Homo sapiens: one gene and its partners. The protein of the gene in region 1 purifies or fractionates together with the protein of each later gene. This does not show direct contact. Each region holds a gene or a part of one and is shown on either strand. Other genes may lie near its edges.

Region 1 (8,005 bases):
AAAACCATATAAATGGCTAAAGAAGCACATGAAAAGATGCTTAACATCATTTGTCACTAGGGAAATGCAAATCCAAACCACAGTGAGATACCACCTCACACCCCTTGGGATGGCTAGAATGAGAAAGACAGTCAATGACAAATGTCGGTGAAGATGTGGAGAAATTGGAACCCTCATGCATGAAGTGAATTATAAAATAGTGCAGCTGCTTTGGAAAGCATTTTGCAGTTCCTTAAAATGTTAAACATAGAATTTATCATATGACCCAGCAATTCCACTTGTAGGTATCTATCTACTTAAGAGAAATGAAGACATGTTCACCCAAAACTTGAATCCAAAAGTTCATAGAAGCTTTCTTAATAATCACAGTGACAAAAAAAGTAGAAACAACCCAAATGTCCATCCACCGATGACTGGAAAAGCCACATGACATATCCATAAAGTGGAATGTTACTTGGCCACAAAACTGAAGCAAGTACTGATACCTGCTACAACATGGACGGCCCTTGAAAACATTATGCCAAGTGGAAGCAGCTAGTCACAATACATCACATATGATTCCATTTATGGAAAATGTCCAAAACAGGCAAATCTATAGAGACAGAGAGTAGATTAGCCTGGGGCTAGGGAGGAATGAAGACTGACAAAGTTTCTTTTTGGGGTCATCAAAATCTTCCAAAATTAGCTTATGGTGATGGTTGCACAACTCTGTAAATATACTAAAAACACAGACTTGTATGCTTTACACAGGTGAATTTCATGGCATGTAAGTTATATGTAAATAAAGCTGCTTATTCTAGGGGAGGTGGGAACTGGGCAGATGGAGGACAAGGAGGAAGAAAAGACTTTCTATTATATATCTTTCAATACTTTCTGGGTTTCAAACCATCTGACTATACTATCTATTCAAAGGCAAATCTAAAATCAAAGGATCAAACAAAATTAAAGGCAGACCCGATTCTCCCCACTTTTGGGTTGGGGAGCAAAGAGGGAGAAAGCCACCACCCGCCGCATATCACCGTGAAGGGTTGGTTGAGTGGAAGGTGGGCAGGACGTTCTATGTGACAAGGGCAGCCTTGGAGATGTTCCAAGACCCATTCATTGCCTGGACCAAAGCCACCAAAAGCCACTGGACCTGACAGAGAGACAGTGCCTGACTGACCAGACAGCAGATGCCAAGCTGACCAGAGGGCCTGTCCCCGCCCCCTCCTCTACCACCATGTGGACCTACATAAAATCCCAGAACCATCATCAAGTGCCAAAGGAGGGCAGGAAAACCCCATGACTGACACCAGCCAGGCAGAATAGAAGCTTGAGAGAGAAGCTTCGTTGATGGAAAGGGAAGAAAGGGAACACCTCTCTGACACTAGCTGTGTGGGCTGGGCTCAGACTCTGGGCCGCCACAAATTTGGATGCAGGATGGAGACTCTCTCCTGCACCCCGAGACCAGAGAGCAGCCAAGGAGGGTGATTCTCAGAGCCCTCTGCTTGTGCCTCCTCACGGGCTTGGCCGGTTAACAGGTGCTGCACCAAGAAAGAGCTCTGTGGTCGGATTAGTTTGAAAAACACTGGGTTAAAGAAAGTCAAGGCAGTTTTTTAACCGCAGGGCTTCTCAGAGCCTTTCCTCATGACTCCCCAAGAGGGGGTCTGGTAGTTTCATCAAAGCACTTTTGTGTGTTTGAGGGATGTCTGGTAGGAAAGACAGTCTTCTTCATTTTACACTGAGGGGAAGCGGCTCAGCCAAGGTCCCAGAGTGGGCCAGTGGACAACCGGCCAGGGCTGATTCGGCAGCACCAGACAGCTTCTGCCACTGCCAGGTCACAGTTCTAGCTGGGTCCTGACTCGTGGCCCCAGAGCACTGGGCAATTTCATCCTGTGTTAAGGCAGCCTCTGGTCACTGCCTTGTCCAAGTCTCTCAGAAACTTTACATATTTGAGCCCCTGGCTGTGTAGATTCTGGGGACTTGGTGGCTGGACACAAAAAAGGACTGAAGAACAAATTTGCTCCCTGCCTGAGGTGTGGGACAGAGCAGCAGGCAGAGGCTGTGAATCTAGGCTGTGCCCCGGGTCCATCTGGCCATGGGTTCTGTCTGCACTAAAGGACCTGGGGCCCTTTCATAAAACCTTAGAAACCCACCCTGATGAAAATGCTATACGGGCCGGGTGCCGTGGCTCATGCCTGTAATCCCAATACTTTGGGAGGCTGAGGCAGGTGGATCACCTGAGGTCAGGAGTTTGAGATCAGCCTGGCCAACGTGGCGAAAGCCTATCTCTACTAAAAATACAAAAAATTAGCCGGGCGTGGTGGTGGGCACCTATAATCTCAGCCACTCGGGAGGCTGAGGCAGGAGAATGGCTTGAACCCGGGAGGCGGAGGTTGCAGAAAGCCGAGATCATGCCATTGCACTCCAACCTGGGTGACAGAGCAAGACTCTGTCTCAAAAAACAAAAACAAAAACAAAACAACAAAACAAAAAAAAAGAAAGCTATAGGATAAATATAAATATAAATATATAACAGAAAAAATGGGTGGAAACTGTTATAGATTAAAACATAGCCAAAAGTCTAATGTGGGACAGGCTGATTTGAACAAGTCAACTGAGAAAGACATTGGTGAGACAGTTGGTACAGTTTGAACCCTGGCGGGCTATGTGATGATGTTCAGGAATTGTTGTTTCAGCAGGGGTGAAGGTATGATGCTTAGTTTTTTGTTTTGTTTTTAGGGTTTGTGTTCTTAAGGAATAAATCCTGTGGTCTCCACAACTCAAACAATCTGGTATTTGAGATTAGCATTAAAATGGTCCAGCGGGCATGTAAGGGGGAAAATGGGGGCTGTGCAGGGGCCATGGTGACAAAGGGAATTCCTGCCGGTGTGGCCAACCCTGCAACCTCAGTGGCTTCTGTCACGGAAGGCAAGCCCCACATCCCAGAGGCATCCAGACTCGGGGCTCTCCATGTGCAGGAGCTTGGGGAGGCTGGGACTGCCCCAGTGTGTGGATCTGCTGTGGGCTTTGCACCTGCTGGACCTTGCAACCCCCACGGCACTCAGGCCCAACCCTCCTCACACCTCCCACCTGCCCTCCTGCCCTCCTGCCCGGCTACTCACAGCGCTCCTCCTGGTCCACACGGCTCCGGCCACCTCGCCTGCTCCGGCCCAGGCCACTCATTACTCAGGATGCTTATTACTAGTCTTAGATTTGATTAGTGCTTGGGCTGCACTTCCTGGGTTTTCCCCTCAACCTGTTGGATGTAAATCAGCCACACCCACTCCCGCCCCCATGCCTGTGCATTGGGTCTCAGGAGCCCAGGTGGGTGGCTGCGGCCCAGGCTCCTGGCGTCCCATGGGGTACACACAGAGCAGTGGAAGGCCTGCCGGGCCTTGCGATGAGGTATTGACTATGGGATGGCCCAGGCTCTTCTAGATCTGGCCTTGGCCATCCCTTGGTCCTCATCTCCTGCCCGCCGGCACACACCCCAAGCCAGGCCAGCTCTCCACCCTCCCAGCATCACTCAGGCCTTTCCCTCTTCCTGGGTATACTTATTCTATTCATTGCCTGGTCGGCTCCTCCTGCTCTTCCTTCAAGGCTCCATTGAGGTGTCACCTCCTCCAGGAAGCCATCCCTGACTGTCCCAGCCTGTCAGGTGGTACTCATTCTCTGTATCTCCTTGACCCTCTCCAACACCTAGCAGAGCACTGGAGAGGCTGAACCCCAGGACCGGACAGCCTGCGTTTGAATCTTGACTCTGCTGCATACTAGCAGAAGGCCTTGGTGGCAATTTATGGAACTCTTCTGTGCCTCCATGTTCTCTGTGTAAAACAAGGATGAGGTCGGGCATGGTGGCTCACGCCTGTAATCCTAGCACTTTGGGAGGCCGAGGCAGGTGGATTGTCTGAGCTCAGGAGTTCGAGACCATCCTGGGCAACACGGTGAAACCCCATCTCTACTAAAAAAAAATACAAAAAATTAGCCGGGTGTGGTGGCGCGTGCCTGTAGTCCCATCTATTTGGGAGGCTGTGGCAGGAGAATGAACCTGGGAGTCAGAGGTTGTAGTGAGCCGAGATCGTGCCATTGCACTCCAGCCTGGGCAACAGAGATGCCATCTCAAAAAAAAAAAAAAAAAAAAGGATGAGAACATTGCCCGCCTCACAGGCGGTTATGAGCATGAAATGAGGGAGGGAGCACAGTTACATTCTTAGAGCAGGTTCTTGGCACACAGTAAGTCCTCAATAAAGGCCGTGGAGGAGGAACATTACAGCCCGTATTGCACTGCATGGCGACTGCACTCCTGTGTCTTCCCCATCGTCTGAAACCTCCCAGGGGATGGGAGGCCCAGCAACAGCCAAAGGCGGAGTGAGAGGAACGTAAAAGCCAAAGAAAGCCCATGGGCCCTTAGGAAGAAACTGAAGGACGAGGAGGACATGGAGAGGTGGAGAGGAAGGAGGGAGGCTGCAGGAAGCAGCTGGAGCAGGGTGATGGTGCACAGAGCAGGAGAGGAGATGCAGACGGTCAGCAAACACAGGAAAATGTCCAGTCTCCCAAAAATCAGAAAAACAACTGAACAATGAAAAACTAACTTTCAGCCATCAGGTTGCAAAGTTTTAAAGTTGGTAACATCAAGGGCAGGGGGGTGATCTACAGAAGCATGAACTCAGGGCCCACTGGAGGGAGGGAGCTGGCAGCAGCGTTCTGGAGAGTAACCAGCCAGGGTCAGTTAAATGCACAACACACACCTAACCCACCCCCCAGAAATTCTCCTCCTCCGTGAGCCTCCTCATGACAGCGAGAAACGGGAAACAATGTAAATGTCCATGCAGCAGAGGATGCCTGAATAAGCAGGGTGCACAGGCCAGAGCCAGGAATCTATTGCACAGTTAAAAGAATGAGAAATCTCGAAGCTTTCAGGACAGACGCTGAGTAAATAAAAGTAGCTTATAGCATGAGCCTTACAGCATGATGCCTTTTAGTAAAACAAAACCAAAAGCAAACAACATGCACACACACACACACACAGTACAGCGCTGTGTTGTCTGTGATCACGCACACATGACTGTGAAGCATAAGAAGTCTGCAAAGACATGCATGACGAAACTGGCTCTCGCCGGGTGGGGCAAGAGGGAACCAGGACTGGGGGTGACCGTCAAAGGGGACTTTAGCCCTATTTGTAGGGCTAAACATTTTACATTTAGGGCTTTTACATTTGTAGGGGTTTTACATTTAATTACTTGTTTACATTTAATTACTTGTGTCAATGAACAGTGACAAAACCATAGCTGGGCTCTGGCAGTGGATTTCTAAGAGAGAGGTAAGAAAGAGATCCCATTGCCAGGAACTTTCTGCCTGTTGAAATGGGCAAGCCCAAAGTCACTACAGGATGCCCTCACTGAGTCCCCCCTCACCTCCTGTTTGCATACCCCCAGGGTCAGGGCTCTCACCACCTCACGGAGCAGCTGGCTCCCTGGGGGGTAGCTCTGATGGTTAGAAAGCTCAGCTCTAGCCTGGGCAACATAGCGACCCTGTCTCTATAATTTTTTTTTTTTTGAGACCGAGTCTCACTCTGTTGCCCAGGCTGGAGTGTGGTGGCGTGATCTCAGCTCACTACAACCTCCACCTCCTGGGTTCAAGCGATTCTCGTGCCTCAGCCTCCTGAGTAGCTGGGACTAGAGGAGTGAGCCACCACTCCCGGCTAATTTTTGTATTTTTATTGGAGACAGGGTTTCACCATGTTGTCCAGGCTGGTCTCGAACTCCTGACCTCAAGTGATCTACCCGTCTTGGCCTCCCAAAGTGCTGGGATTACAGGCGTTAGCCACTGCACCCAGCCTAATTTTTTTTTTAATTAGCTGGGTGTGGTGGTGTGCACCCGTAGTCCTAGCAACTTGGGAGGCTGGAGGATTGCAACACTGGGCTGGAGCTCAGGAGTTCAAGGCTACAGTGAGCTATGATCACACCACTGCACTCCAGCCTGGGCTACAGAATGAGAACCTGTCGCAAAAAAAGGAGGAGGAGGAAGAAGAAGGAGAAGGAGAAAGAGGAGAAGGAAGGAGAAGAAGGAAAGACAGCAAGTTCAGCTTTGTCCAGTGAGCAGACTGTGCTTCCAGACTGTGCTTCCATGGGACTGAATGCTGCTCTCTGCAGCCACACACATTGTCCTGGAGTTTTAAAGCCAATACCTGTTATGCCTGAAATGAAAAACAAACAAAATCCAGCCTGATTTGGGGAGTGGCTGAGAATTGAATGACAGAGTTCCCTAATGTCTTACTGCCAATCACAGCTTGTTAATGCTTTTGCTCAAATGCAGTTTACAGAGAATGGATTTAATTTGCTTTCTATTTTCTTTAATTAGATGGTGTAATTTACAGACAGTGAAATGCACCCTTTTAAAATGGGAAGTTCAGTAAGTGTTCTCATACATGCACACCCAGGCAACCACAACTCAGATCACAACTCAGAGCATGCACAGCCCCCAGAAGGTCCCTCACTGCCCCTTCCAGCCAGCACACCCCACTCCATCCCCAAGAGAGTCACAATTCTGACTCCTGCCACCACAGATTCATTTTGCTTGTTCCCCAAACTTTGTATAAATGGAAACATACAAATGGGATCGTTTCATGAAACACAAAAATAGATTCCCCCTCTGCACTGGCTCCCCCAGAAGATTGAACAGGTGCTGGAGGTTTCTAAAGCTCATTCTGAGACCAGCCTTTTTTTGAGCTGTCTCCCAAGAGGATGCGGGATTCTAATTTTAAGCTCCACAGCCAAGGTGACAGAAGAGATTTAGAACCCAGAGTAGAGATAACTCATATACCTTAAGGTTTTGGACCTGGTTCATTTATATATGTATAATTAGCGAGTTAAAATGCACACATAGTAAAGAAAAAAATTCAAGCAGTAAAAGAATATGGCGGAAGTAAATTTCTCTCCTGTCTGGTTATCCTAGGCCCATGATGTCCCTACTCAAAGGCGGCAACCCTTAGTGGACCTTGTTCATACAGCCTCCCAGCAAAGCCTAGGCATTTCTGAGCATGTGCGTGTCGCTAGAGGATATATTTCACCTCTCCCTCCCCCTCCATACCTTTTTTTTTTTTTTTTAACACAACTGCTGGCTTATACAGATCAAGGTTGCTGTTTAGCATGCCACCTTTTCCATTTAGTATAGCCTGCCGGACAGTTCTTAGCTTTTGAAATGAACTCCTACAGTGATCATTGGGAGTAACAACAGGGAAAACTTAGGGCACTGTTCTAAACACGTAACATCTGCTCATTTAATTCACATTTTACCGTCTTTGTCACCTTGAGGGGCATGAGCTCCTTAAGTTAAATTGTTTGAAGAAAGGCAACACTGGCCTGTTGATCAATATTTCCCAGGGAGATGGTTCCACTCTGCACTAGCATGTCCGTGGTATTTTGGCCCTAAAGACCCACATCCCTGCAGGTGCTGTGGTCTCTTTGAGCTCCCTCATGTCTGCCACCTACTCCTGGTCCCTTGAGGCCCTGCTGTTGAACCTCCTCTGAGACAGTTCTGGGTGTAAAACAAAAGGAAGAGTCTCCAAAAGAGGACATTTCTTAGACATGCAGCGAAAGCCCTCATTTTCATTATTGCCATTTACATAGATGACTCAGATGTGCTGAATTTCCTGTTGCTAATGTAGCTGTACATTTGTGCTAATTTCTCAGAAATGCTAGATACCATTATTTTAGCAAAACTCACTTTGAAAAAGCAAAGAGCAGGGTTTAAAATAATAATAATAAGGGTCCCCAGTGTTCTGTGGGAAGATCTAGTTTCTCTACTTTAAAATGTTTCCCTCCTAACTTTTTATTATGAAAACTTCAAAACTTCAAGAAAGTTAAAATTATAATGAAGACTCAGGGACCCTCCACCAAGATTCAGTAGCTCTTCACCTTGGTGTCTGCATGGCTCCATCCATCTCTGTCTCTTCCTGCCTGCCTTCTGGCTGAGACCCTGAAGGCAATTTGCAGACATCCCGACACTGCAGTCCTAAGTGTGT
Region 2 (7,808 bases), on another chromosome or scaffold:
AAAAATGTAATCAACAGAAACAGTGGCCGTAATAACAGATATAATGGTGTTGATAGATTAAATAACTTAAAACAGGTCATCTAAAGCTTACAAATATACTCAAGAATATTTAAAAAACAGAAAAACAAAAAACACCACCACCAAAATCATAGGTTGCGCACGGTGGCTCAGGCCTGTAATCCCAATACTTTGGGAGGACAAGGTGGGAGGATTCCTTGAGCGCAGGAGTTTGAGACCAGCCTGGGCAACATGGTGAAACCCCGTCTCTACTAAAAATACAAAAATTAGCCAGGTGTGGTTGCAAGTGCCTGTGGTCCCAGCTACTTGGGAGGCCGAGGTGGGAGGATCACTTGAGCCCAAGAGGTTGAGGCTGCAGTGAACTCTGACTGTGCCACTGCACTCCAGCCTGGGTGACAGAGTAAGACCCTGTCTCAAAAAAGAAAAACACAAAGATGACCAGGAAATAGATGGAAGATATTAAAAATGCCAAAAGAGAACTTCTAAAGTTCAAAAAATATATATCTGATATACAGTAGATGAGATTAACAGCAGGTTAGATTCTGCAGAAGCAGATCAATGAACTTGAAGAGCCCTCACAGGGAAATGTCCAAAGTGAAACATAGAAAATGATGGGGGAAAAAAAAGAACAGATACTAAGTTAGCTCTGATACAAAATCTAACATTCTAACGTAAATATAATAAGATCTCAGTCACCAGAAGAGACAGAGTATTTGAAGAAATAATGGCTGAAAATCTTCCAAGTAGAACATAAACTCGGCTGGGCGTGGTGGCTCACCCCTGTAATCCCAGCATTTTGGGAGGCTGAGGCGGGCAGATCACGAGCCAGACCATCCTGGCTAACACGGTGAAACCCCGTCTCTACTAAAAATACAAAAAGTTCGCTGGGCGTGGTGGTGCATGCCTGTAGTCCCAGCTACACGGGATGCTGAGGCAGGAGAATGGCGTGAACCCAGGAGGCAGAGGTTGCAGTGAGCTGAGATCCCACCACTGCACTCCAGCCTAGGCGACAGAGGCAAGACTCCATCTCAAAACAAACAAACAAACAAACAAAAACATAAACTCTAAAACCCCAAATCCAAGAAATTCAACATAACTCTGTTGTGGCTTTCTTTCTTTCTTTTTTTTGAGTTGGAGTCTTGCTCTTGTCTCCCAGGCTGGAGTGCAGTGGCGCCATCTCTGCTCACTGCAACTTCTGCCTCCCAGGTTCAAGTGATTCTCCTGCCTCAACCTCCCAAGTAGCTGGGATTGCAGGTGCCCACCACCACACCCAGCTAATTTTGTATTTTTAGTAGAGACGGGGTTTCACCATGTTGGTCAGGCTGGTCTCGAATCCCTGACCTCATGTGATCTGCCCGCCTCGGCCTCCCAAAGTGCTGGGATTACAGGCATGAGCTACCAGACCCGGCTGTTGTGGCTTTCTTTACAGAAAAGTCTCCAAGGAGAACATAAACTCTAAAACCCCAAATCCAAGAAATTCAACACAACCCAGTTGTGGCTTTCTTTACAGAAAAATCTTCCAAGTAGAAAGAACATGAAAGTCTAAAGCCAAAAATCCAAAAAATTCTTTATAGAGATAAAAAAAAAACCCCACAACAGAGCAAACAAACCAAATCACTGCAAACCAGTGCTAAGAAAAATCTTTAAAAGCAGCCAGAGACCAAAGATCCACCACCCAAAGAGAGGCAAGATGCCCTGGGGACCTAGGCCCACAGAAACCACAGCAGGAGGGGGAGGCAGAGGCCCCTGTACACTCTCCTCACTAGGACAGTTAGGTCCTCCCTCCACTCAGAGGTGAGACCAAGGACATACTGTGGTGTGGGGCGGAAACAGTGAAAACATGAGGTGTGTAACAATATCCCATGAAACTCCAATGCTTCACACTGACATTCTTCTAGGTCAACACCAGCATTCTCTTGACCTTCCTTTCACTGTTCCTCCTCTCCCTTCCAGCCCCTCTGTACAGTCTTGAGTTAGGTCTAGGCCCACACACTTCCCCACTCTGAGCTGCGGTCTCTTCCTCTGTAAAATGTGATGATTCAGAACCTCTCCTGGCCCCAAGCGCAGTTCCAGGCGCTGAGCACACCATGCTGTTCCCTACAAAGCCGACTCTTTGTCCCTTCCCCATTATCACGGATACTTGCCAAGAGGTGGCAAGAAAGGCTCTTCCCAGGCCAAAATGCAGCTGCTATTATCAAGCAGGTCAGGCCCCAAGTGCCACAACTCCCTTCTCCTAAATCTCGTTTTCCCAAGGAACCCCAAACAATGGCATTGGCGATGAGCGGCCCCGCACGCGTAGGGGCGCAGCCGCTAAGGAGGGGAAGGGGCCTCTCCAGCTGCGCCCGCGACGACTCCCGCGCACGGAACGGAACCACTGGGCCGCAGCGACCACAGGGGAGTTCTTCGCCGGCCGCAGGTTCAAAGCGATCTGCAATGAGCGCCTTTAGGAATTCATTCGAAGGCGCAAAAGAAAAAGAAATTAAGGCAGGAACTGAGCGAGGAAGGAAGGGAGGGAAAGAAAGGAAGAAAGAGAAAAAGAGAAAGAAACAGAAAGTAAGGAAAGAAAACAAAATCAAAGTCCGACGACCTCTCCGTGGCTTCACGCAGCTTACTCGGGAATTCCCTCCTTGTCGCCCTCCCCCACTGGATTCGGGAATTTACACCAAGTGGAGCGCGCGCTCTGTTCCCTGGCGGCCCAGGTCGCTCCTGCCCAACCCGGGGACCCATCTCTTCCCCCGACTCCGACGACTGGTGCGTCTTGCCCGGACATGCCCGGCCGCAGGCGACCCGGGCCACGCACCCCCGCCGTGTCCCCCTCTCTCCCTGCCCTCTCCAGGCGCCAGGCACGCTCTTCCCCAGCCAGGGACCGCGGCGGGGACTCACCAACAGCAGGACCGCGGCGACAACGAGCACAAGGGTCTTGGGGACCCGGGGCCCAGGCCTGGCTCCCCGCGCCTCCCTGGGTCCTGGGCCGTGCCTTTTCCGGGCCCCCGAAGCGGCCGGGGCGTTCTGTCCCCGTTGTTCCATGGCGGTAGGGAACGCTCTTATAGTCTCTCAGGCCCGTGGGTTTCAGCCCTTAAAGTAGATCGGGCATCGTCGGTGTATTTTGTGGGCGCAGAGATTGCGGGGTTCTCCGGCCGCGTGCTGATTTATGTGTCCAGGCTGACTTGGGGCGGCGCGGCTGTACTTTCACTGCCTCCGGGCAGGCGTCATTCGGGGCGGGGCGAATCAGATCCAATGTGCAACTGCAAATTCCACCACAGGTTGGTGACAATAAATAAGAGTCTCGTCAACGCAATCCTCCGCAAGCGCGTCCAAGTGGGGAGGGGAGGGGAAGGGACCGGAACTAACCTTCGCCCTGGCGGCTGCGCCCCGGGCTGTGGTTTGTTTCTGGGTCCTGTCCGCGCCAGGACAGGCACCGAAACTTGGGGGAAATGAGTTGAGGGAGGCACTTGGGGAGTTGACGCCTCCCGGGGTCGCGCGCTTGGCTGTGAACAGGGTCTTGAGGTTCAGAGTCCGCTTTCCAGGCGCGTCTTGATCTTCTCCCCTTCCCAGGGGCACCTGCCCCTTCTGTTCTCTCCTTCTCTCTTCTTTCCTTTTTTCTTTCGTTTTCTTTCGTTCTTTCGTCTTCTTTCCGTCCTTCCTGCTTTCTCTTTCCTTCCTTTCTCTCTTTCTCTTTCCTCCCTCCCTCCCCCTCCCCCTACCTCCCTTCCTTGTGGTTTATTTTTTGAGACAGTCTCTCTGTGGCTCAGATTGGTGAGCGGTGGTGTGATCCCGGCTCACTGCAACTTCCGTCTCCCAGGTTCAAGCGATACTCCCACCTCAGCCTCCCATGTAGCTGGGACTACAGGCCTGCACCACCACGCCTGGCTAATTTTTGTATTTTTAGTAGACACAGGGGTTCACTATGTTGGCCAAAAGACCATCGAACCCAGCTTACACTCACACCTAGTCCACAAATGTGCCTGTGTCCCTGCACCCTTGCTACACTTAGCTTTCATTTGTCACTAGTCTAGGAAATAAAACATGATACATCACATTGTTATGTATTTTCATTCCTTCATGGTACTGTGTCCGGAATTGGTGGGTTCTTGGTCTCACTGCCTTCAAGAATGAAGCCTCGGACCCTCGCGGTGAGTGTTACAGTTCTTAAAGGCGGCGTGTCTGGAGTTTGTTCCTTCTGATGTTCGGATGTGTTCGGAGTTTCTTCCTTCTGGTGGGTTCGTGGTCTCACTGGCTCAGGAGTGAAGCTGCAGACCTTCCCAGTGAGTGTTACAGCTCTTAAGGCAGTGGGTCTGGAGTTGTTCTTTCCTCCTGGTGGGCTCGTGGTCTCGCTGGCTTCAAGAGTGAAGCTGCAGACCTTCAAGGTGAGTGTTACAGCTCATAAAGGCAGTGTGGACCCAAAGAGTGAGCAGTAGCAAGATTTATTGCAGAGGGAAAGAAGGAAGCTTCCACAGTGTTACCACTGCTGGCTCTGGCAGCCTGCTTTTATTCTCTTATCTGGCCCCACCCACACCCTGCTGATTGGTAGAGCGGAGTGGTCTGTTTTGACAGGGCGCTGATTGGTGGTTTACAATCCCTGAGCTAGACACAAATGTTCTCCACTTCCCCACCAGATTAGCTAGATACAGAGTGTGGACACAAAGGTTCTCCAAGGCCCCACCAGACTAGCTAGATACAGAGTGTCAATTGGTGCATTCACAAACCCTGAGCTAGACACACGGTGCTGATTGGTGTGTTTACAAAACTTGAGCTAGATACACAGTGCCAATTGGTGTATTTACAATCCCTTAGCTAAACATAAAGGTTCTCCACGTCCCCACCAGACTCAGGAGCCCAGGTGTCGTCACCCAGTGGATCCCGCACCGGGGTTGCAGGTGGAGCTGCCTGCCAGTCCCGCGCCGTGCTCCCGCGCCGTGCGCCCGCACTCCTCAGCCCTTGGGTGGTCGATGGGACTGGGCGCCCTGGAGCAGGGGGAGGTGCTCGTCGGGGAGGCTCCGGCTGCACAGGAGCCCACGGAGGGGGTGAGAGGCTCAGGCATGGCGGTCCCGAGCCCTGCCCGTCGGGAAGGCAGCTAAGGCCCGGCGAGAAATCAAGCGCAGCGCCAGTGGGCCGGCACTGCTGGGGGACCCAGTACACCCTCCGCAGCCGCTGGCCCGGGTGCTAAACCCCTCATTGCCCGGGGCCGGCAGGGCCGGCCGGCTGCTCCGAGTGCAGGGCCCGCCGAGCCCACGCCCACCCGGAACTCCAGCTGGCCCGCAAGTGCCGCGCGCGCAGCCCCGGTTCCCGCTCGCGCCTCTCCCTCCACACCTCCGTGCAAGCTGAGGGAGCGGGCTCCAGCCTTGGCCAGCCCAGAAAAGGGCTCCCACAGTGCAGCGGTGGGCTGAAGGGCTCCTCAAGTGCCGCCAAAGTGGGAGCCCAGGCAGAGGAGGCGCCGAGAGCGAGCGAGGGCTGTTGAGGACTGCCAGCAAGCTGTCACCTCTCAGTACTACGGATTTTCAAGAATACAGGAGTTTTTGGTACTGGGAGTAGATGACTGGGGGGATCCAGGCAAGACTACAGGGGAGGGCGGCAGAGAAGACTTAATTCCCAGCTGTGTACTTGGAAAACCGTGCTCAGCTGGGGCCAGTCCCTGCCAACCGCCATGCCTGTTAATGGAAATAAGGTCTCCATCCTCAGGCTGTCAGGGTGACTTCAGATGAGCCTGGAGCTGAGCTCAGTTCCGGACCCCAGGTCCTGGCTCTGTCAATGCCGGACTGGTCCAATCTCTATGCCAGGTCCTTCCAACCCCATCCCTCTCTTTATCAAAGTAGGAATCAAGAAGATCCGAAGGCTCAGGCTCTCAGGTTGTTAGAGAGTACTGAAATTGGAGGCTGTGGATGGCTGGGCCCTGCCGTGCTCCCGGTCCAGCTCTGACTCTGGTATGGCCCCAGCTCCTTCCTGTAAAATGAGGGGATAAAAATCTTCAGCAGCCCTGTGTAAACTTCTGCAGGCTCTGTTAACAGGTCTAGGAGGACAAATTGCAGGGCTGGTGTCAGTCACTCTAGACTCTGGATCCCCAGGGCACATGTCCTCCACTCAGCAGAGGCTGCACCTTCTCCTACCTGTACCTCAGTACCAGCTCCCTGAGCTTGAGGCAGAAATTTCTGAAGACTGGGGTGGAGCGCCATGCGGAGGGGCCGTAGAGGAACAGACGAGCCAGAATTCAAATGAGGACGGTGATGGCACTGCAGGGCCACAGCCTGGTTTACCTGCCACTCTTCCAATTGTCTTTCTGTTGGGCACCCAGCCGGTGCCCCAGTTTGAAGAGTGAGCAGGAAAGGTCTCAATCCGTGTGGCCACAGATGGCTGTTCACAGCCTCTACTGAGAGACCACAGTCCCAGTTCCGGTTCTCTGTCCTGCATCCAGAAGTGGCAGGGCAGCGAGGCTCTAGCTTCCAGGTTGGGGATGGGGACAGTGGAGACAGTGCCATGCCCTGAGCCTGTGCTGTTGGGCAGCTGGTGTCCTGCTCCCAGCCAGAGACTGCACATCTTCATGTAGTGGATTTTCCTAACAACCTGGGGACATGAGAGTAGGTTGTTTTCCCTGTTTTACAAGTGGCAAAACTGAGATTCAGGAGCAGTGTCTCCAGCATTTTTGGCCTCACCTTCTGTATAATAGCAGCCATATTTGCACCTCTACAGGGCTAGAGTTCTCTGAGCAGCTGCTTCTCTATTCTCTGTCCTGCACTTGGCCTCTGGGAGCTCGTATGGTTCCTCAGCAGAGTCCACAGGGCCCTCCCTGTGCTACAGCCTGGAGCCTGTCAGGCGGTGAGCTGAAGCCACGACTGCACTCACCTCATGGGTTTGCGGGGAGAATGATTCACCCAGGAAGCAGACAGTGAGCCCTTTACTCTGGGAACACCTGTGCCTGGAGTCTGCTGAAGGCAGGGAGGACAAATGAACCCCATGTGAATCCTACTCCCTGGAGCCTACAGTGTGGTGGGAGAGGTGACACCAGGGGTCATATAACTAATAGGAGGTAGCATGAGGGAGGCCTGAGATCTCACCACCCTTGCCTCCCCCTCCTCCAGAGAGGCTGTGCTGGAGGGAGGCCATGCCATTGCAAGGCCATAGGATGTGGTATTGTTTGCCTGGAAGATGTGGTTTGATTACAGCCACCATTGAGGGTCATGGAGGCAAGCTAAGCTCCCTTTAAGGGTATTTTTTTTTTGGCTGGGCCTGAGAATTAAGTTGACATAAGACAGGTCCACAGGAGAAAAGCACACAAATTAATACAATGCAAGTTTTACATGGCACAGAAAAAGCAGTGAGAGTCAGTTACTTATATACTGAATTAGACCAAGTAACTTGGGAAGAAGCAAGTAAATATGTGGAGGCTAAAAAGATGAGTTATTCTATTCTTTTTTTTTTAATATCTGCTCCTTTAAGGAATAAAAAAGACAAGCTTACCTTTTAAAATATATTTTACATATGTATACAATCTAAATTTATTTTTCTCTCTTTATCCCTGAATACTTTATTATTTTTTTTTTAATTTTTTGGAGACAGAGTCTTGCTGTGTCGCCCAGTCTGGAGTGCAGTGGCATGATCTTAGCTCACTGCAAGCTCCGCCTCCTGGGTTCACGCCATTCTCCTGCCTCAGCCTCCCAAGTAGCTGGGACTACAGGTGCCCGCCACCACACCCGGCTAAATTTTGTATTTTTAGTAGAGACAGGGTTTCACCATGTTAGCCAGGCTGGTCTCTATCTCCTGACCTTGTGATCCACCTGCCTCGGCCTCCCAAAGTG
Region 3 (7,956 bases), on another chromosome or scaffold:
CTTTTTAATCTAGATTATCAGCTACATTTGCATTGGGAAGCAAATTTTATCTTCATCTGATACTATTTCCCCCCCTTTCATATTTTGTGGATTTTTACATTTAGGTCCACTTTCACCTTTTTGACCACTACGTCCTAGCCCAAGTAGGCATCCTGTAGAGCACATTTAAACATGGTGTTCCTTAACATTTTATAAATGGCTATACAGTTCACTTTTAAAAATATATTTTAATGGAATTTTAAAGTACATGCATAACTCTTGAAGCACTGCCATAGCATACTTTAAAAAGTTATTTGCATTAATTATTCGTACTGTTTAAAAGCAGTACAAAGCAGATAATGTAGTACAATACAGTTCAGAAATAGACCTAAGTTTATACAATCATGTGCCACTTAAGAGGGATATGACCTGAAAAATGTGTTGTTAGACAATTTCATTGTTGTGTACACATCACAGAGTGTATTTACACAAACATAAATGATATAACCTACTACACACCTACACTCTATGGTATATAGCCCGTTGGTCTTAGGCTACGAAACTCTGGCATTGTGTTAACTATACTGAATACTGAGGCACTTGTAACACAATGGTAAGTATTTGTGTAGGCAAACATATCTAAACATAGAAAAGGTACAGTAAAAATAGGGTATAAAAGATAAAACATGGTATACCTGTATGGGGTACCTACCATGAATGGCATTTGCAGGACTGGAAATTGCTCTGGGTGAGTTAGTGAGTGAATGTAAAGGCCTAGAACATTACCATCGTATTTTATAAACTCGTACTTTAGACCTTATAAACACTGTACACTTAGGCTATACTAAGTTTATAAGAACATTTTATCTTTCTTTAATAATAAATTAACCTTAGTTTGCTCTAGCTTTTACTTTTAAACTTTACAATTTTTAAAAACTTTTTGACTCTTGTAACGCCACTTAGCATAAAACAGACACGTTGCACAGCTGTACAAAAATACTTTCTTTATATCCTTATTCAATAAGCTTTTGTCTATTTTTAACATTTTTTTATGTTTTACTTTTTAAACTTTTAATTAAAAACTAAGACACAAACACATACATTAGTCTATGTCTAAACATGGTCAGAATCATCAGTATCACCGTTTTCTACCTTTACGTCTTGTCCCACTGGAAAGTCTTGAGGGGCAGTAACACACACACAGCTGTCATAGGCAATGTGTGTATTATAGGCTGAGGCCTACGATAACAGTTCCTTCTTCTGAAATACCTCCTGAGGAAACTGCCTGAGGCTGTTTTATAATTAACTTAAAAAAAATTAGAGTACACTCTAAAATAATGATAAAGAGTATAGTATAGTAAATATGTAAACTAGTAACAGTCGTTTGCCACCATATTCAAGTATTATGCTGTACATAATTGTGCGTGCCATACTTTTATATGACTGGACTGGCAGCACAATCGGTTTGTTTACACCAGTATCACCATGTGAGTAATGTATTATGATAGTTATAAGGTCACTAAGCAATAGGAATTTTTCAGGTTTATTAAAATCTTAGGGGACCACTTTTGTATATAGTCATTGTTGACCAAAACATTGTTCTGTGGTGGCTGACTTTATGAGGATTTTAATGGATCACAAAGGAGTTGTTTTAAATCAAGGAATAAAACAAGTTATTCAGTAAATGATGTTGGGGCAATTGACTAGCTATTTGGAAAAAAGACAGCATTATGTCTTTTTTAAATATCCAAATAAATTAAATTGGATGAATTTTTTTTCTTTTTTTAATACATAAAACATTTAATACATGCTACAAAATTCTTTTTTTTAAATAGTAAAATCCTAGGGATTTAAAAAAAATAGTCTTAATATTGAGAGGGCTTTTTAAGGTATGGCACGATATTCATAAAGGAAAATATTGGTAAATTCCAGTACATGAAAAATTTAAAACTTGTTGATGACAAAAACAAAAGAACAACAACAACCCCTTTCTCTCCAATAAAAGGTGCATCATAAAATCAAAATCCAATCGGGGAAAATATTTTGCCCAAAATATCACCAAACTTCATTCAATTAGAAAAATACAAGCAGGCCAGATTGTGAAAAAAGTCAAACATTTCACTTCTAATAGAAAGTCACACAAGATGTACAAATACACAAGATTGTTCATATCTGTAGAAATTGCTTTAATTATGCTAAATATATAATATATATGGCCATTCAAGAAAAGTGACATTTATTGGTATGGACATCGAGAGATATTTATGAAAAGAATTGGGTTAATAATTTAACCATGAAGTTATAAACTAGTATGTTTCCGTATACATACCATACATATTTATATACAGAAGTTCTTTCAGTATGTGTGTAGAAAAATATATGTAGGATTTAACTCCGAATTCCTCACAGAATAGTGGTTATCTCTTAGGGCTAGGGATAATCATGGACTGCTTTTTTACATTACGTGGCCTGAAATTTTGAATCTTTGTAAAAAGTGAAATGGGTGGGTTACAGAAGGAATTGTTTAAACTTTAAAGATTTTATGTTGCAATTACCTGAAATATTGGTTTCTTGAACTTTTCTAATATAAAACAATAGTTTTATCAAAATGAAAGTAATTATGGAATATGTTTCTTATAACATCAGAAGTTCTTAGTTTTCCTGAGTAAATTTACATCTTTACAAAGCAAAAACTCAGTTCTTTCAAAAATTTACACAGCCTAATTCTCAAGTTTGTAATGGAGCAATGTTAATAAAAAGTTTGTAAATCATTTTGTAATTAAAGTTGAAACTTTAGAAAGTTGTAGCCTCATCTTATAGATTTGAGGAGCTGTGTGCTGAATATAGAGATGTGTAAAGTTAGATCATCAGAAATTTTTGTCAGTAACTTATTTTTGAAAATGTCAGTAACTCTTTTGCTTTTTAGGTGAATTTTTTTTAGCTGAATGTAAGGATGAGTTTTATGAGTAGGTATTTTGCATTAAACAGTTGGAATTCCTTATAGAATATGATACATTTTTATGTAACAGTGATAGCTTCAAAAAATTGCAAATTGTCCTGGAACTAAAATACATATAAGTACTTTTTAAAAAAATTCTAGTTGTATGACATTGTGACAAAAATTCTCTGAGCAGCATTTGAACAGGCATGAAATCTTTTAAATTTATCATAAATTTATATGTGCAGGTTTAAAATTTATACCTGGGGATTTTAATACCACACAACTTATGTCAAATATCATTGAATATGTAATTGTTTCTACATTTCACATTATGCTGTACTTTGAGATTGTATTATAAATCTTGTGTGAGTATAAGTTATTTGGCAATATGTTGCTAACACTGATTTACCTTAGTTCATGTTACTCTAATTTGAATGCAGTTTCCAAACCAGCCACTTAATATAGCAAGTACTTAGACATGACTATTTTTTAAGTTCACGTTTTATATTCAGTTATAAAAGTTTGGTAGGAAAAACTGTTTTTCAATAGAAGAGTTCAGAGGGGTTTTTTTTCCTTTCATTGAGACACTTATATTTTGTTTTAGTTTTATAATAAACATTTTATGGTAGTTGGTCATTTGATGTAATTTGAAAATAATATACTTTACACATGCAAAATTATTATTAAAGATTAATAATTATATACCATTTGTAAATGAACAGTAATTGAAATAAAATATATTTAGCATATTGATCCTAATTTAGACATTGATTCAGACATTAAAACTAGGATCTTGAAGTACCTTGGGATTGTCATCTTAAACAGCAGTTGTCATTGTGTTATAAACATGTAGACATATTTCTTTTAGTCAAATATTGGCCAGTAGTGAAATAGCTATATTTTATTATGAGAAATTATTCTTGTTTTCTTTTTAAAGGAATTTGCAATTACTAGTCTGATTGTAGGAGTAAATAACCATAAAAAGTAAAGTGTAAATTATAATAATAGTAAATTGAATAGTAAATAATCAAAAAGCAAATGGGCAGATAGCCATCTTCAGTTGTCTTTAGCTATTTTAATTTTAATGTTAGGCACTATGACATTTATTTTTTTCTTCAGAAATTTTTAATGTCTTATATTCCAATATTTTTAATCATTTTAGGCTGCAGTTCATGGAGCTCGTTTCAAAGGGCAAGATCTAAAACTGGCATGGAATAAACCAGTAACTAATATTTCAGCTGTTGAAACAGAAGAAGTTGAGCCTGATGAAGAAGAAGTATGTTATTTTTTTTCCACTTATTTTTACCCTTAATCGTTCATAGCTTTTATATAAAATGTGATTTTTATGGCCGTGATTTTAACATAAAACTTTTATTCCTGACCCATAGTCCAGGCAGGGGATATCAGATAAATGCAAACAACTTTAAATTTTCTGGATAATGAGAAGAAATGTGGATTGCTAATTCAAAAAGAATATATGAAAATCATATATATATACTCAATTTTTATTTACCCTTAGAGACAATGATTATTCATTAGATTTTTATCCACAGGAAATCTTGTAATATTTTAAGTTTTAGGATAATCTATTCTCAGTTGCTTTATTAACATTTCAGCTTTCCTTTATTTTAATTCATTTATCATTTTAGTCATTAGAATGAATGCCTGTTATATGGTAGATACTGTCATAGGCACAAAAATGAATAAGACACGGTCCCTATCTATCATCAAGGAGCTTATAATCTGAAAAGGGGGGTGGTGGCAGACACATAAGAAACTAGTTACAATAAAAGGCAGACTGATAACGCTGAATAAAGATTTGAACAACATGCTCTGGAAACTCAGAGGAAGGAGTGATTGTTTCCATCCCAAAAATTTTAAAGGAGGTATTGATAGTGGAACTGGGCCCTAAGCAGTAAAACAGCTTCATAAGCTAGAACTGGAGCTGGTAATATAATTGAGAGGTATTTTAGATGGAGGGATAAGCATCAGGAAAAATGAAAGTGTGCATTTTTCTTTGAGTAACAGCAGTTAGTCTGATGGCTAAGAGGTACGGGCCAGTGAAGTGTTAGAGGCCTTTGAAACCAAAAACTTAAAAGTAAGCAACTCTTACTTAATCACAAAATAAACTTTAGGAAAAAGTTTAAGTTAATAAATAAAGGTAAGGTGGGAAAACTAAATAATTCCATGTTTTACCTTCATAATGGCACTTCATTTTGTTTGAAGAGCATTTCAAGGCTGTTATACATATCCATAGTCAAATGCAAGAATAAAAATGTATATTTTGAAACTCATATACATGATTTGTCATTTTATATTTTAGATTATACCTTTGTCCTTCCATGAGTTTGAATTGAATGGGGAGAAAAGCAGGAGAGCTCCTGGTATTAGGTATTTTGAAAAGTTTGAAATAGCAGTCTGAGAAGTGTTTATGAAGGGAATGGGGAAAAGAAAGGAATGCAATAATAGAAAATGTTTGTTGCATACAGCAGAAAATAAATATAAATATAAATCTTGGTAGAATTTTATACAAGTCATTGGTTGATTTTAGTATTCAAGGTTAGGAGGGTAAATTAGAGAAAACTTACTGTTTTCTTTTTTAAAAAGTTTGACCAATATTTTAAAGGTACAGAAGATGGCGTAATTTGCTAAAGAGAGGCAGGAAAAAATGGCATGTACAAAGGCTTTATTTGATATTTGTTTAGTGTGTTTCATGCAAGCAATAGAATAGATCATATAGAGAAACCATTGAGTGGTTAAATGTTGCTTTTCTTTGTTTTGTGAATGTTCTAGCTATAAAAATACCTTTTGTATTCAACTCTGTTGAGAGAGATGAGTATTTAAAAGTGTCACCTTTTTTTTCTTTTCTTTTTTTTTTTTTTGGGTAAATTCCTAAATACATTTTAACCTAAAGTTTCAGGAAGAGTCTTTGGTGGATGACTCATTACTTCAAGATGATGATGAAGAAGAAGAGGACAATGAATCTCGTTCTTGGAGAAGATGATTTGACTGATCATTGATCTGCATATGCTAGAACTCTACCTGTGTTTCATTAGTATTATCTAATGTACTTTTACATATTTGTAAAAACAATTTTTGGTAAAATGTGATGAAGATGGATTTCACAAATAGACAAAAAAGAAGAAAACTACCTTCTGATCTTGTATTTTGAAAGATTGATGTTTGCATTTTACTTCAGTAAACAATTGCTAAAGACATCACACTAGAAACATATGCAATGTTTTTATTACATACTTCTACTGGACATCACAGAATTCTTTGGGTTCTTTGTAATTTAATGAATAGGTCTGAAAACTTATGACCAATACTTGTTATAACTTAGAGGACTTTGTTTTATTCCAAATAAGGAATGAATTTGCATTTAAAATCTTAATGAATGTTTTCAAAACTGAATAGATAACATAGTACTCTAACTAAAGTCTCCAAGTTATGTATTATAATATTACATAGTAGTATGCTTAGGCTTTACTATGTATTAGCCTTTTGTTGGACTGTGTATGTATTTTACCATATGGGTTTTAATGATAATGGTGTATGACTGCTTTACATGAGTCCTTATGCATCCAGATGTTATAATAAAGTGGAATGGTCTCTTTAAAAAAAAAAAAGGAAAGAAAAGAGAAAAGCAATGACAAAAAAAAAAAAAAAAAAAAAGCCAAGACAATGTTCCTTGATTTAAAAAAAAAAAGAAAAGAAAAAAGAAAAGAAAAAAATTAAAATAGACCATTCCAGATGGTGATCTACCCTTCCCCCCAATTATCACAAAAGGAGCTATAATCACTAACTTATTCTTAATAATAATGGTTACTGGTACCCTTACAATAATGTACAATCCAATGTTTAAAAATTATACCACTTGAGTTTGGTTTGATCCTATAAATTTTCAACAAATGTCTTAAAATTTAAAAGCAGGCTGATTAGTTTGGAACCAGACTGCAAGTAGAGCTAACATTTGGTGAATAAGAAAACATCACATTACATTTTGGATGTATGAAAGAAAACTTGACCATTTGAAGATATATGAATAAAGAAATGTACTATAGATACTACTTTAGGAAAACACTGTTTGGTAAGTGTTCCAGTCTGATATTTTAAGTGTGTACTTCCTATACTTGTATAAAAATCTTTGATGTTTGCAACAATACTGTGATTTTTTTAAGTGGATTTCTTTTGCAAGTGAACATGATCATTGAAAGTTGATATGGCAGTTTCCAGGAAATAAATGCATTCTTTGTAGAATGGGGGTGGGAGATTACATATTTATATTTTCAAATTCATCATTTTGATTGCAAGTGTTTCTGCCTCTCTTGAGATTATAGTGATAATATTAAAAAATCACATTTAAAAAATTACTTTCTTCCATATTGGGGTCCTCACAATCAAAAGCTGTTGTTCCACCACCACCATAGTCTTCTGCCAGTGGAGTAACTTAAGGATGCTGTTCTTTTTCTTCTTCCCCATACACCCCTAATTGGGGTTGAAGTTGTGTGTATTTTCTTGATGGTAACACTATTTCATAGAAATGCTTTGCCTTGCAATTCGTGTCTACGTTTATATTTAAAATTTCAAAATCAGATTTCAGTTGTCAAAATAGTGACTTTGCTCAAAAAGTCACTATTTTTACTTATATATTTAAATCAAAGATCTATTTTTATGTAGTCTCTTGTATGTTGACTATGTGCTATTCTGATTCATTAGGTAAGTTTGTTTTCTTTTCTTTTTAGTAGTCGTGAAAGGTGCCAAATTGGCAGAGGCTCACGTTTCTTCTCTTTACACCAAACAGGTATTACAAAGAAAGTAAATCTTTCAAAGGCCAGTTAAATCTCCATGCTGATTTTTGGCTTTATAATTTGATTAGTATGTTTTAGCCTGATATTTCAAAAATTATAAAATTCCCTTACAATGTAACTGAAAATACATATTCTGTTTATTTCAGTCCATGAATAGCTAATCAGTTTTCCTAGAACTTAAAATGTTTTAAGCCATGTTGCTTTGAATGAATCAGAAGACAAATA
Region 4 (7,858 bases), on another chromosome or scaffold:
GGGACGGGTGGGTAGACAGAGGAGGTGGCTCCTTCAACTTCCCTCCTCCATTCTGCAAACCGGGGAGCTCAGGCGGAGCGGCGGAGGGCAGGGCGGCGAAGGTCAGGAGGCCAGGCCCCCCAGCCCGCGCAGGTGAGCCTTGCTGTCTACCTCTTCCTCCTCCATCTCGAAGGCTGAGTGGTCTTGGCTGTCGAAACAGGAGGCGCTGAGGAAGACAGGGGGAGCCGGCGGGGACTGGGGTGGGGTCCCCGGAGAGGGCGGCTCTTCCTTAATGTTTGCGAGGGGCAGCGGGAGCCCTTCTTCCTCCTGCTCGGCCTTCAGGGGCGGCGGGGGCGGTGGCGGCGACGTCGGGGCCTGGGCCTGCAGTGCCTGCAGCGCGGCGGCCCTCTCCAGCTCTGCGCGGTGGCAGCGCTGGTGGCGCAGGAGGCTGTAGGCGCGCGAGAAGCGGCGCGGGCAGCGGGGGCACGGGTGCGGGGCTGGGCCCCCCGCGTGCACCTGTGCGTGGCGCGCCAGGTCGGCCAGGCGCTTGAACTCCCGCTGGCAGCGCACGCACTGGAAGGGGCGCGCTCCCGAGTGGGTCACCCCGTGCTGCCGCAGGTGCGCCCGGCGCCTGAAACCTTTGCCGCACTCTGGGCACCAGAAGCGGGGCTCCCCGGCGGGGGGCCGAGCCGGGGCGGCGTCGCCTCCGTTCTGCCCTTCTCCCCCTTCCGAGGCACCCCCGCACTCCGCCCCCTCGCCCCCCTCCGGCCCCTTGGCTGAGTTCCGTGCACCCGAGGCCTTGTCGTCCTTCTTGCCCGCCGCGGGCAGCGGGGCCAGCAGGCTGAGGGGGCCGTGGACGCGGCGGTGCTGGCGGAGGTAGGAGGCGAGGCGGAAGGCCAGGCCGCAGTCTGGGCACACGAAAGGGCGGTCGGTGGAGTGGACCAGCCGGTGGCGCGACAGGGACCAGGGCCTGGCGAAGGCCTTGAGGCAGATGGAGCACTGGTGTCGCTTGGGGCGTGGCGGGGGCCCCCCTTCCCCTTCCTGTTCGCCCTCGGGGCGCAGACACGGGTGCGCCTTGAGCTCGCCCTTGGTGGCGAAGGCTTCGCGGCAGCGCAGACACAGCAGCGTCCAGTCTGCCTGGAGCAGGACCTGTTTCTCCTCCTGCCGCCCGGCCGCCAGCGCCAGCTCGGCCCTCAGCTCTGCTGCCCCGGCCTCGGCCTCCTCCGACTCCGACTCCCGGGGCTCCGCGGCGCTGGTGGGCGCAGCCAGCGTGGAAGGCTCCCCCGCAGGCCACGTCTCAGGCCACGCTGCGACCGCCTCCTCCTCCGTGGCCCCTGCTGCAGCGGTGGTGGGCGGCTCCGAGCCCTCGTCCTGCGGGCCCCAGCTGGGTTCGGCCGTCTCCTTGGCCACCCTCTCGATGGCCAGCTCGACCTCGCCGCCCGCGTGCTCCTGAGCCAGGTGGCGCCTGAGCTGGGCCGGTTCTGGGAAGGTGCGGGGGCAGGCGGCGCAGCGCAGCGGGGGCTGGGGCCCGTGGCCGCGCAGGTGGCGGGAAAGGTGGGCCGGCCGGCGGAAGGCCTTGGGGCACAGCGGGCAGGCGTGGGGCCGGAGCCCCGAGTGGCTCAGCCGGTGCCGGGAGAGGTAGTAGGGGAAACGGAAGAGGCGGCCGCAGGTGGGGCAGGGCAGGGGCGCCCTAGGGGCTCCAGCGCCCCCCCTGCCACGGCCACGGCCCCGACCACGGCCTCGGCCACGGCCCCGGCCTCGGCCACGGTGAGGTGGGCTGCCCTGGGCGGGTGGAGGAGGCTGCGGATCCATGCCTGTGGGGAGAGAGGGGAGAGATGGGAAGCGGGGCAGAGATAAAAAGAGGTGCGTGGGGTGTGGCAGAAAGAGAAGCAGAGACAGTCAGAGATGGAGAGGCAGAGAGGGTCAGGTATTTAGCCAGGAGAGAGATATGAGACAGAGACAAAGATGAGAGACACCGAGGGGAGGCCAGAGATGGAGAGACAGGAGGAGAGAGATCAGAGACAGAGCGACAGAGCAGGGAATAGAGACAGGAGAAGGCAGAGATGGGAGACACAGAGAAGTGGGGATGGACAGACAGAGACCAGGAGTCGCAGAAAGACAGGATGGTGAAAGGCAGAGCAGAGAAGAGACAGAGGAGAGTGAGGAACACCCAGCAGAGAGACAGAGACACAGAGAAGAGGAAACAAAGAGACTTGGAGAACCAGAGGCAGAGATAGTGCAAGAGCAGAGATCAGAAGAGCAGTGGCGGGTTGGGGGCCGGAGAGACAGGGAGACAGAGACACAGAGGGAGTGAACTGGGCAGAGGCACGGAGGGGGACAAAGTCAGCGAACCGCTTCTGCTCCAGGTCCCCCGGCCAGGCTGAACGTTTTGGGAGGGGCTGGGACACAGCCCATGGGGCCTGAGTGGAGGGGGTGGGATTTGAAGCCGGTAGGCCCCGGAAATAGAGTGTGTTCTCAGATGCCAGGGGCTGGGAGAGGTCGGGGAGTAGGAGGGTTCAGACTTCTGGTCTGAGTTGGGAGGGGGCTAGGGGCCCAGACTCTTGGGACTGATGGGGATGGGAGCTGGGGATTGAGACTCCTGGGTCCAGGTCATGACGGATTGGGGAATCTGGACTCTGGTATGGAGGAGGTGTGGATTCCTGGGTCCCGGTGGAGGAGGGGCTGGGGAGGGGGCTGGGCTCCCAGGACAAGGGGGAGGCGGGGGCTGGGGACCCAGCTGCCGGGAATCCCCAGGGAGGAGGCGACTGAGGGCCGGACCCCTGGACTCGGGAGGGAGGCTGGTGGGGGTCGGGGGTCCCAGGTCCTAGAGGGGGGCCGATCTCCTCCGGGCCAAGCCTGCAGCTCCCCGAAGGCATGATCAGCAGAATTGGGGCCGGGTCGAGGCCTTGAGGATTTCTCAGCCCTGGGCCTGGGGCTTGGTCCTGGTCGCTGGGGCTGGGTTCTTACCTCGCCTCCTTGGCTCCTTTCTTCCTTCCCCACGGCCGGCCAAACGCGGACGGTGGTGGCGGGGAGGGAGGGGGGCCTGAGCGTGGTGGGGGGTGGAGGAGGAGGCTGGGCTCGGTGTCACTGCCTAAGCCTTCCCCCCGGAAACCTGGCCTTTCCTCGGAGCCTGAAAGAGGAAAGACTGGCTGGGAAGCCGGAAGCGGGAGGACGGGGGACCTGGAGAGGGGAGGGAAGGCAGCTTGCACTACAGGGTCCTGTGAGGGGAGGGGGCTGGGGGCCTGTCCCCCGGGCTCCCAGAGGGCGGAGGGTGCTGAGGGCCTGGAACACTGGGTCCAGCTACTCCCGGCTCCCCAACATGCACACACACATATTCATTCATTCCTTCAACAAATACACATTTATCAGGTCCTGTCTGTGCCAGGCACTGTGTCAGGCCAGGGGAGTGGCCGGGGGAGGAAGATGAATGAATCAGTGACAGAGGCTTCAGGAAGTACTGGCACTCTGGATCAGAACCTGGCTCCAGCCTTCCCTTGGCTGTCTGGGTGAAGGATTCTCCCACTTCGAGCCTCGGTTTCCCCCTTTGTGAAAGCCCCTGCATATACTCATTCAACCCTAAGCGACCAATATTTACTGAATATCTACTACGGGCCAGCCTGCATATATTTGTCTACATATACGCATATTCACTGGGACCTTAGCAGCCAATGTTTACTGAGCACCTACTATGGGCTGGTGCTGTCCTTGGTGCTGGAGTCACAGTGGCAAAAACCGGAGCTCACTGTCTGATGGGGAAGGCAGATAGATACGGATCAATCACGCTGGAGTGCATGTGGGGGAACGTGTGCTCCGAGGCAGGGAACTGCTATGGGAATGCAGAGAACAGAAGGCACTGAGCTGAGCTCACACTGGGAGGAGGTGATTCCTGAGGTCTTCCTGGAGGCAGCAATGTTTCAGCTGAAATTGGCAGAATGAAACCAACCTGGCGACATCTCAGAAACCTATTCTGGAGCAGAAAAGGCATTTTGCAGGAGTATACCCACAGCTTGACGCTGTTTGTTTAAGGTTACATTCCTGCCAAACAGTGCTAATGAGAGTGCGAGCAAACAGGTCCTTTCATACACGGCTGGGGCAAGTAGAACCTGGAACATTCTTACCGAGCCAGCAATTCCAGGAATTTATTCTTCAGAGGCATCTACTCGGAACTGCACAAAATAATGTCTGCACCAGGTTAATCATTGCAGTACTGCACATCACTGCAAACAGCTGAAACCAATCTAAACACCCATCTGTAGGAGAGCTGAGTAATAAATCATGACTGATCCACCCAGTGGAATACTAGGTGTCCATAGAAAAGAACAAAGAAGCTCACCGTGTGCATATATGGTAAGTCTCCAAGTGATAACCTGTAGAAGAGAAAAATGGAAGGTCAAGTACAGCCTGCAGCCTGTTCTGGGTTTGTGTGTGTTCTGGGATTGTGTCCAGATGAACTGGAACAAGAGAGAAGAAACTGAAACTGGCAACATAGTCTAACTTCCAGGACAGAAATTTACTACACTCTATCCTTGTTTTTTTGTTTGTTTGTTTTTTTTTGTTTTGTTTTGTTTTCTTTTGAGATGAGATCTCCTTCTGTTGCCCAGGCTGGCTGGAGGAAGTGCAGTGGTGTGATCTCGGCTCACTGCAGCCTCGACCTCCCGGGCTCAAGCAATCCTCCCACCTCAGCCTCCTGAGTAGGTGGGGCTACAGGAGTGTGCCACCATGTCTGGCTAATTTTTGTATGTTTTGTAGAGATGGGGTCTCCCTATGTTGCCCAGGCTGGGCTTGAACTCCTGGGCTCAAGCAATCCACCTGCCTCGGCCTCCCAAAGTGCTGGAATTACAGACATTAGCCACTGTGCCCGGCTTTTTGTACTTTTTGAATTCAAAACCGTGTGAATGTGCTATATACTCAAAAAAGTAAAGGAGGCCAAGCATGGTGGCTCACGCCTGTAATCTCAGCACTTTGGGAGGCCCAGGTGGGCAGATCACCTGAGGCCAGGAGTTCAAGACCAGCCTGGCCCACATGGTGAAACCCCATCTCTACAAAAGGTACAAAAATTAGCCAGGCATAATGGCACATGCCTATAATCCCAGCTACTCAGGAGGCTGAGGCAGGAGAATGGCTTGAACCTGGGAGGCAGAGGTTGCAGTGCGCTGAGATCGTGCCATTGCACTCCAGCCTGGGCAACAGAGCAAAACTCCACCTCAAAAAAAAAAAAAAAAAAAAAAAGAAAAGAAAAAAGTAAAGGAAAAAGAAATACATGGGGATTATAAAAATAAATGAAATGAAAAATAATAGCTTACTCTTGTGAGCGTATTACAAATATGATCCCATTTACTCCTTGCTTTATGAAGTAGGTACCATTATTTTTCCCTTTTACAGAGGATGAAAGTGAGATACTAGAAGTTTCCAAACCTAGCGAGTCTCAGTAAGAAGTTTCACTTCACAAACAGATAGGAGAAATGATAGTGGATCAGAAGCATGATTTAAAAGAAATAATAAAAGGCCGGGCGTGGTGGCTCATGCCTGTAATCCCAGCACTTTGGGAGGCCGAGGGAGGCAGATCACTTGAGGTCAGGAGTTCAAGACCAGCCTGGCCAACACGGTGAAACCGTCTCTACTAAAAATACAAAAATTAGCTGGGCATGGTGGTGCGCGCCTGCAATCCCAGCTAGTCCGGAGGCTGAGGCAGGAGAATCGCTTGATCCTGGGAGGCGGAAGTTGCAGTGAGCCGAGATCGTGCCACTGTACTCCAGCCTGCGACAGGGCAAGACTCCGTCTCAAATAAATAAATAAATAAATAAATAAATAAATAAATAAATAAATAAAATAGGAATGGGGTCTCACTCTGTTGCCCAAGCTAGTCTTGAATTCCTGAGCTCAAGCAATCCTTCCACCTCAGCCTCCGAAAGTGCTGGGATTACAGGCATTAACTACCGTGCCCAGACTAGGAGCATGCTTTTTAAAAGCACCTTGTCCATAATACTATATTTTAAAGAATATATACCATGGAATAAAAGTCTAAAAATGTCTGTGGTAATAATAGGCACCAAATTCAAGATATAAGTTATGTTTGAGATAGGAGAGGCAATCAGATCTTGGAGGGGGTGGTCCGCGGGGAGTCATTTGTATCCCTAATATTTCAAAGCTGGTAGTCAGAATATGGGTGTGTGTATTTTAACATGTTTTTTGTAAAATACACTTAAACTTTATAATTGTAACCATTTTAAATCACACAGCTCAATGGCACTAAGTAAATGTTGCACAACTATCCACGCTGTCTAGTTCCAGAACTCTTTTTTTTTTTTTTTTTTTGAGACAGAGTTACACTCTTGTTGCCTAAGCTGGAGTGCAATGGCGTGATCTCGGCTCACCGCAATCTCCGCCTCCTGGGTTCAAGCGATTCTCCTGCCTCAGTCTCCCAAATAGTTGGGATTACAGGCATGTGCCACCATGCCCAGCTTATTTTGTATTTTTAGTAGAGACAGGGTTTCTCCATGTTGGTCAGGCTGGTCTCAAACTCCCGACCTCAGGTGATCCACCTGCCTTGGCCTCCCAAAGTGCTGGGATTACAGGCGTGAGTCTCTTTCTTTCTTTCTTTCTTTCTTTTTGTAGATATGGGGTTTTGCTTTGTTCCCTAGCCTCATCTGAACTCCTGGTCTCAAGCCATCCTCCCACCTGAGCCTCCTAAAGTGCTAGGATTACAGGCGTATGCCACCATGTCCAGCCTAGTTCCAGAACCTTTTCATCAGCCCAAACAAACCCTAAGCCCATTAGCAGTCATTCCCACACTCCCTTCTATCCCCAGCCCCTGTCAACTAATAATCAGTTTTCTGTCTCTATGAATTTGCCTATTCTGGACATTTCATATCAATGGAATAATCATACCATATGTGTTCCTTTGTGACTAGCTTCTTTCACTTTGCATAAAAGTTTCTCCTCCTCCTCCACAAAGGACATTGCCCCCCTCTTTTTAAAAAGTGAGACAGGGTCTTTCTCTGTCGCCCAGGCAGGAGTGCATTGGTGCAATCACGGCTCACTGCAACCTCCACCACCAGGGCTCAAGCGATTCTCCCACCTCAGCCTCCCAGATAGCTGAGACTACGGGCATGCACCACCACGCCTGGCTGATTTTTGTTTTTGGTAGAGATGGGATCTCGCCATGTTGCCCAGTGTGGTCTTGAACTCCTGGGCTCAGATGACCAGCCCACCTCGGCCTCCTGAAGCACTGGGATTACAGGCGTGAGCCACCTCACCTGGCCAGCATAATGTTTCTAAGCTTCATGCGTGCCATGGCATGAGTTGGTTCTTCACTCCTTTTTGTGGCTGAATAGTATTCCTCTGCGTGAGTGCAGTCATCCCTCGGTGTCCGCAGGGGATTGGTTCCAGGACTCTCCTCAGATTCCAAATCCCTGGGTGATCGAGTCCCTTACAGCCTCCTATCTGAGGGTGCAGAACCCACGGATGTGGAGGGCCGCTGTCACCTACATTTTGTTTATCCATTCATTTGTTGATGGATATTTGGGTTGCATCTATCTTTGGGCTATTGTGAATAGTGCTGTTATAAACATTGGTGTGTAAGTTTTTGTTTGAACAGCTGTTTTTAATTCTTTTGGGTATATACCAAGGATGTGTGTACTATTTTATCATCTATATTTTGAAGGCTTGAAAGATGGATGAGGAGGAGAAATAATAATGAATTCAGGAATGGAGGTGATAGAAAAGAAAACTTTAAGCAGAGAGCACAGCACATGGAAGGGGGTTTGCGCTCTGCTTCCCCAGCACATGGCGGGGGATGGGGTTGGGGGTCTTGCATTAGGGCATAAAGGAGGCCAGTGTGGCGGAGAGAGGCCAGAGCTGCACCCAGCGACCGTGCCGG

Evidence for each region.
Region 2: the proteins of TNFRSF13B (region 1) and TNFRSF10B purify together in Homo sapiens (co-immunoprecipitation; 3 studies listed by BioGRID and IntAct, with this or other methods). This does not show direct contact.
Region 3: the proteins of TNFRSF13B (region 1) and RBM26 purify together in Homo sapiens (co-immunoprecipitation; 3 studies listed by BioGRID and IntAct, with this or other methods). This does not show direct contact.
Region 4: the proteins of TNFRSF13B (region 1) and ZNF579 purify together in Homo sapiens (co-immunoprecipitation; 3 studies listed by BioGRID and IntAct, with this or other methods). This does not show direct contact.

The regions. Positions count from the first base shown.
Region 1 is NC_000017.11:16,968,911-16,976,915, forward strand, and holds the start of TNFRSF13B (tumor necrosis factor receptor superfamily member 13B), read right to left. Parts: upstream 3,209-8,005; 5' UTR 3,166-3,208; coding exon 3,105-3,165; intron 1-3,104. UniProt on the Homo sapiens protein: Receptor for TNFSF13/APRIL and TNFSF13B/TALL1/BAFF/BLYS that binds both ligands with similar high affinity. Mediates calcineurin-dependent activation of NF-AT, as well as activation of NF-kappa-B and AP-1.
Region 2 is NC_000008.11:23,065,850-23,073,657, forward strand, and holds the start of TNFRSF10B (tumor necrosis factor receptor superfamily member 10B isoform 1 precursor), read right to left. Parts: upstream 3,183-7,808; 5' UTR 3,046-3,182; coding exon 2,902-3,045; intron 2,572-2,901; exon of another isoform or gene 2,380-2,571; intron 1-2,379. UniProt on the Homo sapiens protein: Receptor for the cytotoxic ligand TNFSF10/TRAIL. The adapter molecule FADD recruits caspase-8 to the activated receptor.
Region 3 is NC_000013.11:79,318,589-79,326,544, reverse strand, and holds the end of RBM26 (RNA-binding protein 26), read left to right. Parts: intron 1-4,082; coding exon 4,083-4,196; intron 4,197-5,243; coding exon of another isoform or gene 5,244-5,342; exon of another isoform or gene 5,343-5,834; coding exon 5,835-5,924; 3' UTR 5,925-7,677; downstream 7,678-7,956. UniProt on the Homo sapiens protein: May be involved in the turnover of nuclear polyadenylated (pA+) RNA.
Region 4 is NC_000019.10:55,577,849-55,585,706, forward strand, and holds the start of ZNF579 (zinc finger protein 579), read right to left. Parts: upstream 3,001-7,858; 5' UTR 2,947-3,000; intron 2,295-2,946; exon of another isoform or gene 1,794-2,294; 5' UTR 1,792-1,793; coding exon 103-1,791; 3' UTR 1-102. UniProt on the Homo sapiens protein: May be involved in transcriptional regulation.